Homo sapiens: one gene and its partner. The protein of the gene in region 1 interacts with the protein of each later gene in a biochemical or structural test. Each region holds a gene or a part of one and is shown in the gene's direction. Other genes may lie near its edges.

Region 1 (3,952 bases):
GAACCACTGAACTCTAGCCGGGTTCAAGCAATTCTCCAGCCTCAGCCTCCCAAGTAGCTGGGACTAGAGGCATGCGCCACCACGCCCGGCTACTTTCTGTATTTTTAGTAGAGACAGGGTTTCACCATGTTGGCCAGGCTGGTCTGAACTCCTGACCTCAAGTGATACACCTGCCTCGGCCTCCCAAAGTGCTGGGATTACAGGCGTGAGCCACCTTGCCTAGTCCAGTTTTTTAAATGCAAGATTAGGTTGAAAGGATTACAGCCATCCTGTTATTTGGATGGCTGTAATCCTTTCAACCTAATCTTGCATTAAAAAAAAAAAAAAAAAAAAAAAAAAGCCGGGCGCAGTGGCTCCCAGCACTTTGGGAGGCCGAGGCGGGCAGGTCACGAGGTCAGGAGCTCGAGACCATCCTGGCTAACACGGTGAAACCCCGTCTCTACTAAAAATACAAAAAAAAAAAAAAAAAAAAAATTAGCCGGGCATGGTGGCGGGTGCCTGTAGTCCCAGCTACTTGGGAGGCTGAGGCAGGAGAATGGCGTGAACCTGGGAGGTGGAGCTTGCAGTGAGCCAAGATCGTGCCACTGCACTCTAGCCTGGGCTGACAGAGTGAGACTGTCTCAAAAAAAAAAAAAAAGCAAAAAAAAAAAAAAAAAAAAAACCACAAAGGCTGGATGCGAGGTGGCTTTTGCCTGTAATCCCAGCACTTGGGGAGGCCAAGGCAGGCGGATCACTTGAGGTCAAGAGTTCGAGACCAGCCTGGCCAAAATGGTGAAACCCCATCTCTACTAAAAACAGGAAAATTAACCGAGCCTGGTGGCGCACAGTTGTAATCCCAGCTACTCAGGAGCCTGAGGTGAAAGGATCCACTTGAATCTGGGAGGTGAAGGTTGCAGTGAGCCGAGATTTCACCACCGCACCCCAACCTGGGTGACAGAGTGAGACTTGATTAAAAAAACAAAAAGAAAGAAAGAAAATGCCTGGCTAGCCACAGTGGTTCATGCCTGTAGTCCCAGCTACTTGGGAGGCTGAAGTGGGAGGATCACCAGCAGTGATAGAATGAGACTCTATCTCAATTTAAAAAAAAAGTGATAATGAAGAAGATTGATTATTCCAGCCATTCTTCACATACCCAGAGTATGCTTATAGTGGGTATAAGAGATCTCACTACTTAATTTGAACCAACACATGAGGGGGTAAAGATTTAGGAATATAAAAAGTATAAATTAGTATAGAGCAAACTGGAAGTTCCTCAAGAGTATTGAATCTTTGAAATTGTGTAGCTTACAGAAGTCCTGGTGGAATGTCTGTCAGAAGCTATTAGATTGGTGGCAAGAGCGTTCTAAGTGGACAGGTGGATTGTGGAAAGACTAACCCCATCTGTATGCACTCTGTCCTTCTCTTTGCATACTTTAGTTAGCAGTTGGTTAATTTGCATGTGTGGTTTCAGCCATCATGTTGTATTGACTCATTCTGAAAGCTCTGTGAGGATAGGCCACATGTCTGCCCGCCCCCACTGCATCTAGCACTTTATGTGTGATAATCTATTGAAAAATATTTGTCAAATGAATAAAATGGTGAATGTATTCAGCAGACATTTAGTGAGACTTGAGAATGTCCTGTGGGGGTGGAAGTGGGTAGAGGAGTGGTAGGCCTATAAGGATTGATGAGACATAATGTCTGACTTTAAGGAACATAAATCTGGCACTAAATATAAATTTTTGAAACTCCTTAATTCTTAGATTAGCCAATGCAGACAGTAAGTAACTTACTGACCTAAACCAGAATTTTTTTGTAACATAGATTTTAATAAATTTCTTTGTTTTTTGTTTTTTGGTTTTTTTTTTTGAGACAGTCTTGCTGTGTCGCCAGGCTGGAGTGCAGTGGCGCAATCTTGGCTCACTGCAACCTCCGCCTCCCAGGTTCAAGCGATTTTCCTGCCTCAGCCTCCTGAGCAGCTGGGACTACAAGCGCGCGCCACCACGCCCATCTCTAATATTTGTATTTTTAGAGACGGGGTTTCACCCATGTTGGCCAGGATGGTCTCGATCTCTTGACTTTGTGATCCGTCCGCCTCGGCCTCCCAAAGTGCTGGGATTACAGGCGTGAGCCACAGCACCTGGCTGATTTTAATAAATTAGGTGAAATCTTAGTTATGTAACAGACACCCATTCTGCATTCTTTCTCTACTAATTCAGCTGGGAAGCAGGATTGCTTAGGGGTCAGTTTTATAATGTTACTCAGTTTTTTTATTTTATTAAAATTAGGGATTTGATTAAGTGGTGACATGTTGCTTTTCTGAAATTACAGAAGGGCATTTATCTAAAGTGACTGTGACCAAGTAGCAAGATACTTAATTGAGTAGGTCGGTATACTAAAAATAGCTCAACTGACTGTAATGATTCAGGTATGCAAAGATCAGATAATGCAATATATTAGTTAAGGGAACTTTTACTGTATATGGTATAATGGTCTATGGTATATTTCCTTGTAAGTTGTTTCTCTCTCTCTCTTTTTTTAAATGTTAAAGTAATCAAGATGATGCTAACAGTCAGTTACCAGAACTCATACAGGGACCATTTGTGTGGAAACTAAAGCTGCAGAAAATCCAGCAGAATCCTGCGCTACTATTGTAGTTATTTGTAGTTGTTTAGGCAGAAAAATCAAAGACAGGAAGTTAGGAATGTTTGAAGACATTATTCTAGGGTAATGAATTCAGATAAGATGTATTTCACTCATGTTAAAGCTATCCTCTGAAAATAAGACTTGCCTATAGAAGTATCCCCAACCAAAAGCCTATTAGGAACTCCCTAGCCCAGTCAGACAGAATGTGTATTCCAGGGAGAAGGCTGTATCCTGCTTATGTTAGACTGTACTACATACTTCACGTCTTAACTAGATATACCAATTAAGAATAGGCAAAACCTAATCAGTTGTCAGAAGGAAGATATATATGAACAAGAGAGAAAACAACTCCATGGAACTCAGAAGGAGAGTCCCCAAACATGAATTTGGCAGTGATTTTTCAACACTGTCCAGGGAGAACATAAGCCAGCTTTCCACCATCATTTGGACAAATTTTTAGTGATAGGACACATATAATTTATCAGGCTTTATTGTGGTTTCATTTTCTTTTGGTTTAGATTCAATACTCACCAGATAACTTCTCAGATGCCACAGTATGAGGAATAGGGTACCCTGTGTGGTAAGAGGACTATTCCCCCCATTGTAACCAAATAAACTGGCATTTGGCCTATATGGTAATTTTCTTCATAAACTTTATAAAAAATAAATATATATTTTGTTGAGGATACAGGGCTAGTGAAAAATAAAAATATCAATATAACATTAACCTTTTAGAAATTAGTTAGCATAAATTAACCCTTGGAAGCCTAATCAATTCCATGTGTCCAGAAAAAAAAAAAAGGATTTTATGGTGCTGTAGAACTGAGAGTCATATTCAGGAATAATTCATCTCTTGTTGTAGAAGGCAGGGATCATAGTCTTATTCTTATGTACCCAGTGCTTGGCACATGGTTGAAAACTCATTATTGAATTATAGAGATGGCAACTCCAGACCTATAGTGAGAACAACTAGACATTTTATGGCTCTACTCTTAGAATTATTCTGACATCAAAAGAGTAGTTCTGCCATTTCTTTAACTCAGCAGAAATCATTCATTAAGTGATGAAAATAGAAGCTTCTAAACAAACCAGAGCCTTAAAAGGCAAATAAAAGGTATATGCATCTGTTAGAAAAAAAATGGGAGAGCTATGTGGTGTGTTTGAGGACAAAGACAATCTGTTTCATTATTTTTATTTGTAAATAATTTTTAATTTTATTTTGTAGACCTTATTGCAATATGCAAGCAACAAGAATGCATCAGAACATATTGTGTATCTTCTGGAGGTATATCGACTTGCCATCCAAAGCTTTGCCAGTGCACGTCCA
Region 2 (3,600 bases), about 120 Mb from region 1:
TTTTAAAAATTTTGTAAAAGTAGGGTCTCACCATATTGCCCAGCTTGGTCTCAAGTTCCTGGGCTCAAGCAATCCTCCTACCTTAGCCTCCCAAAGTTCTGGAATTACAGGTGTGAGCCACCAAGCCCAGCCTATTTATCTTTCTTAAAATAAAAAGTATGGGGAAAATTAAGATTGTGTATTTGATATCTAAAACTATTCCCTGTTCCAAAAAGTATCTTAAAAATAGACTAGAGACCGGGCACAGTGGCCGACGCCTGTAATCCCAGTACTTTGGGAGGCCGAGGTGGGCAGATCACCTGAGGTCAGGAGTTTACAACCAGCCTGACCAACATGGAGAAACCCCGTCTCTACTAAAAATACAAAATTAGCCAGGTGTGGTGGCGCATGCCTGTAATCTCAGCTACTCAGGAGGCTGAGGCAGGAGAATCACTTGAACCCGGGAGGCCGAGGTTGTGAGCCACAATCATGCCATTGCACTCCAATCTGGGCAACAAGAACGCAACTCTGTCTCAAAAAAAAAAGTAGACTAGAAATAGAATCATATCATTTGAAGGCAGAATAAGAAACCTTAGAAGTAATCTAGCCTAAAATTACAAAAATTAGTGCTGTATGCTTGAACACCTCCAGAATTGAGAAGCTTTCTTTGTGTTAAGGTGGTGGTGCATTCAGGTTTTTGGACAATTTAATTGTTTTTCACTGTTATCTTTTCTCACATTTTGCCCTTAAAGGTCACCAAGGAAGAAGGATTGGCCTTGGCCCGAGAATTCAGCTGTCCCTTTTTTGAGACATCTGCTGCATACCGCTACTATATTGATGATGTTTTCCATGCCCTTGTACGGGAGATACGTAGGAAAGAAAAGGAGGCAGTACTGGCCATGGAGAAAAAATCTAAGCCCAAAAACAGTGTATGGAAGAGGCTAAAATCACCATTCCGGAAGAAGAAAGATTCAGTAACTTGAAGAGAAGATGTGAAGTGTTTATCTGTGAACTGCAGTGCTGTATCAAAGCAGTCCAGTAACCTGCAGTACTGAGTATGGTGCTTGCTCTTTCACTTAACTGATAAGAGGGACATGCCTACTAGGAGTTTTTAATGATGTGGTATTTAAAGTATTGTCTCTTAGTTAAGTATGATTTATTAACCCAGTGGAGCACTGTCTGCTTTTAAATTGTCACATTAGAATTTGTTCTACCAATGTTTTGGGTTCTGTTGCGCTATTAATTAATGTAAATTTGTTTATACCCAGGAGAATATGTATACCATGTGTGTTTGACTAAGTTCACAAGGGAAGTTTTTGGCTCTGCACTCCACATTATCCTTTAATTTCAATTTCCTGGGACTATCCCAGAGAAAGACCTCAGTCTCTTCTATTCACACTATGCTTCCTAGAGACAGAACAAAAATCATGTAGGGAAATTGGGGCTAATGAGATCAGTGCCAAATTTCAGCAGATACCTGTGAGGCTGACACCTGTTGCAGACTATGGAGTGGTGAGATTTGGGAAAGTTGGGCTATATGTTTGCAGGGACTTAAAAAGGTAGGTTCAGAACAGTATTCTCAGTACAAGCTTCGCTTTTCTAAGAAGTACACATTTGGCCCAAATTCACCGGGATAAGTGAGAACAGCCAGAAGCATAAAATGTGATGAAGGTTTCTCCTGGGAACCTTATTTTACTCTTCATTTCAGGGTTTTCTTTTTTTTTTTACCTTCAAAGGTAGACATTTTGGGAATCATAACTGTATTACTAAACGTGTTTAATCAAAATTCATAGTTGGATCAGCCATTGCCTTGTACAGGTTTATTTTTTCCCCACAGACGCACACACCAACACATTTATATTCATTGCTTCCTCCCACTTTGTGCTCTGTAAAAGAGCTACAGCTGGCAAGATGTTTTTTCGGCCCTTCATCACTGATTGCATTTTCCATACAGAAGAGACATCAGGGGTGTGGGTAAAATTGTGTGTGTGCCTCCTTGACGTGGACAATCACTAGACTCAGTGCTCTGAGAAAATCTGCTATTTCTGTTGAATGGGTCAGTCTTAAAGCTTTAAAATTCACATAGGTGGAGTTTCCCATCTGAAGATTTCTTTACAAGGACTTTGCTAAGTTCATCTCAGGGTTATCTGAGCCTTGACCAAGTTTATCCTAAGGGAATACCACTTTGCTCCCTGTGCATAGTTTAGGAACTGTAGTCCTAGGAGGAAACAGCTTTAAATATTGGTAGTGAGTTGTCTAAGATCAGGACTGTTTTGATATCTGACCTTGTTATATGCGGAGAGTAAATGCAAAAATGCTAAGAGTAATGCATCATGTATTGAATATTAAGTGTCACTGAAGCAATGTTTGTGTTGACTAGAAACGTAAGATGACTTGTGTAGCACCTCTTTATAAGCACACAGCTCATCTTAATATTTTCCATTTTTATTAGAGGAAGTAGGACAGAGTTGTGTTTTTCTTTATAAACAAATGATAAACTAGCTTTTTTAAAAAGTGACTGTTAGAACTTTTTTAGCTCTGAGTAGTGGTCCCTTTTTAAACTCCTGGAAACATTTTTGTTACCAAATAAATCATGTTTTATGGTACTCAGCCATCCAAAAGTGAAAGACCTAGCATTTGATTCTGTGCAGGACACAAATCTCACAGGAACTATAGCACTTTGGAAAAGCATCAAAGTAGAAAAGAAATACAGTGCAATTCTATTATGAGAATGTTTTACATTTAAACTGGTTTAGCACCTTTTAAGTTTAAAGCCCATAGCTTCTTATTACTAGTGACCTAGGGAATTGTTATTAACATTAAGAGATATATATATATATATATATATATATTTTTTTTTTTTTTTTTTTTTTTTTTTAAATAGAGATGAGGTTTCACTATGTTGCCCAGGCTGATCTCGAACTCCTAGGCTCAAGCAATCCTCCCAATATGCTGGGATTACAGGCATGAGCCACCACCTGGCCCAAGCAAGAAATTGACACTATATAGTTATTTAAGGTAGTCAGGCAGTAGAAACATTGCCAGAAGGATAGAAAGGAATTTGGATTATATATAAGGAAAATAACAAATCGGTGTTTTTAAGACTATCACTGTCATATATTAGATCCTTGTATTAGTCCATCCATTAATATTAGTTCTATTCGTGGTGCTAGGTAGCTTGACAGGTATGATATGCATAAGTCATAGCTCTATTCTTAGTGTCATAAAGTGTAGCTAATTTATAAGCTCTAAGTAATCAGCTTTATCTAATTTGAGGGCATTAAAATTACTGCCTAGAACTTTGAGAAGAGAAAAATTCAGGGATAAGTTGAAAGGCACTGGAACTGTTCATGTCCATACCAGACCGGTAAATTATAAGATCCAGATGTTAGTGTCTAGAATTAGCTGTTTAGAATTCAGAGGGGACATATGTTTTAACTTTGTCATATATTAGCAAGAATTGGTCTACTGTGATGTTTGGGGAGGAGGAGGGGGGGATAATTTTTTTAATGCACTTGTATGTGAAGACAGTTTGTATGACATAATACAAAACTTTTAAACAACTTGGGCTTTCCTTTGCTTCCCTATCAGTGGGTAGAGTTTTTGGAATCATTGCAAAAG

What was found.
Region 2: the proteins of RLF (region 1) and RIT1 form a complex in vitro, tested with the Homo sapiens proteins (one study listed by BioGRID).

Annotation. Positions count from the first base shown.
Region 1 is NC_000001.11:40,185,205-40,189,156, forward strand, and holds part of RLF (zinc finger protein Rlf), read left to right. Parts: intron 1-3,850; coding exon 3,851-3,952. UniProt on the Homo sapiens protein: May be involved in transcriptional regulation.
Region 2 is NC_000001.11:155,897,750-155,901,349, reverse strand, and holds the end of RIT1 (GTP-binding protein Rit1), read left to right. Parts: intron 1-731; coding exon 732-962; 3' UTR 963-3,542; downstream 3,543-3,600.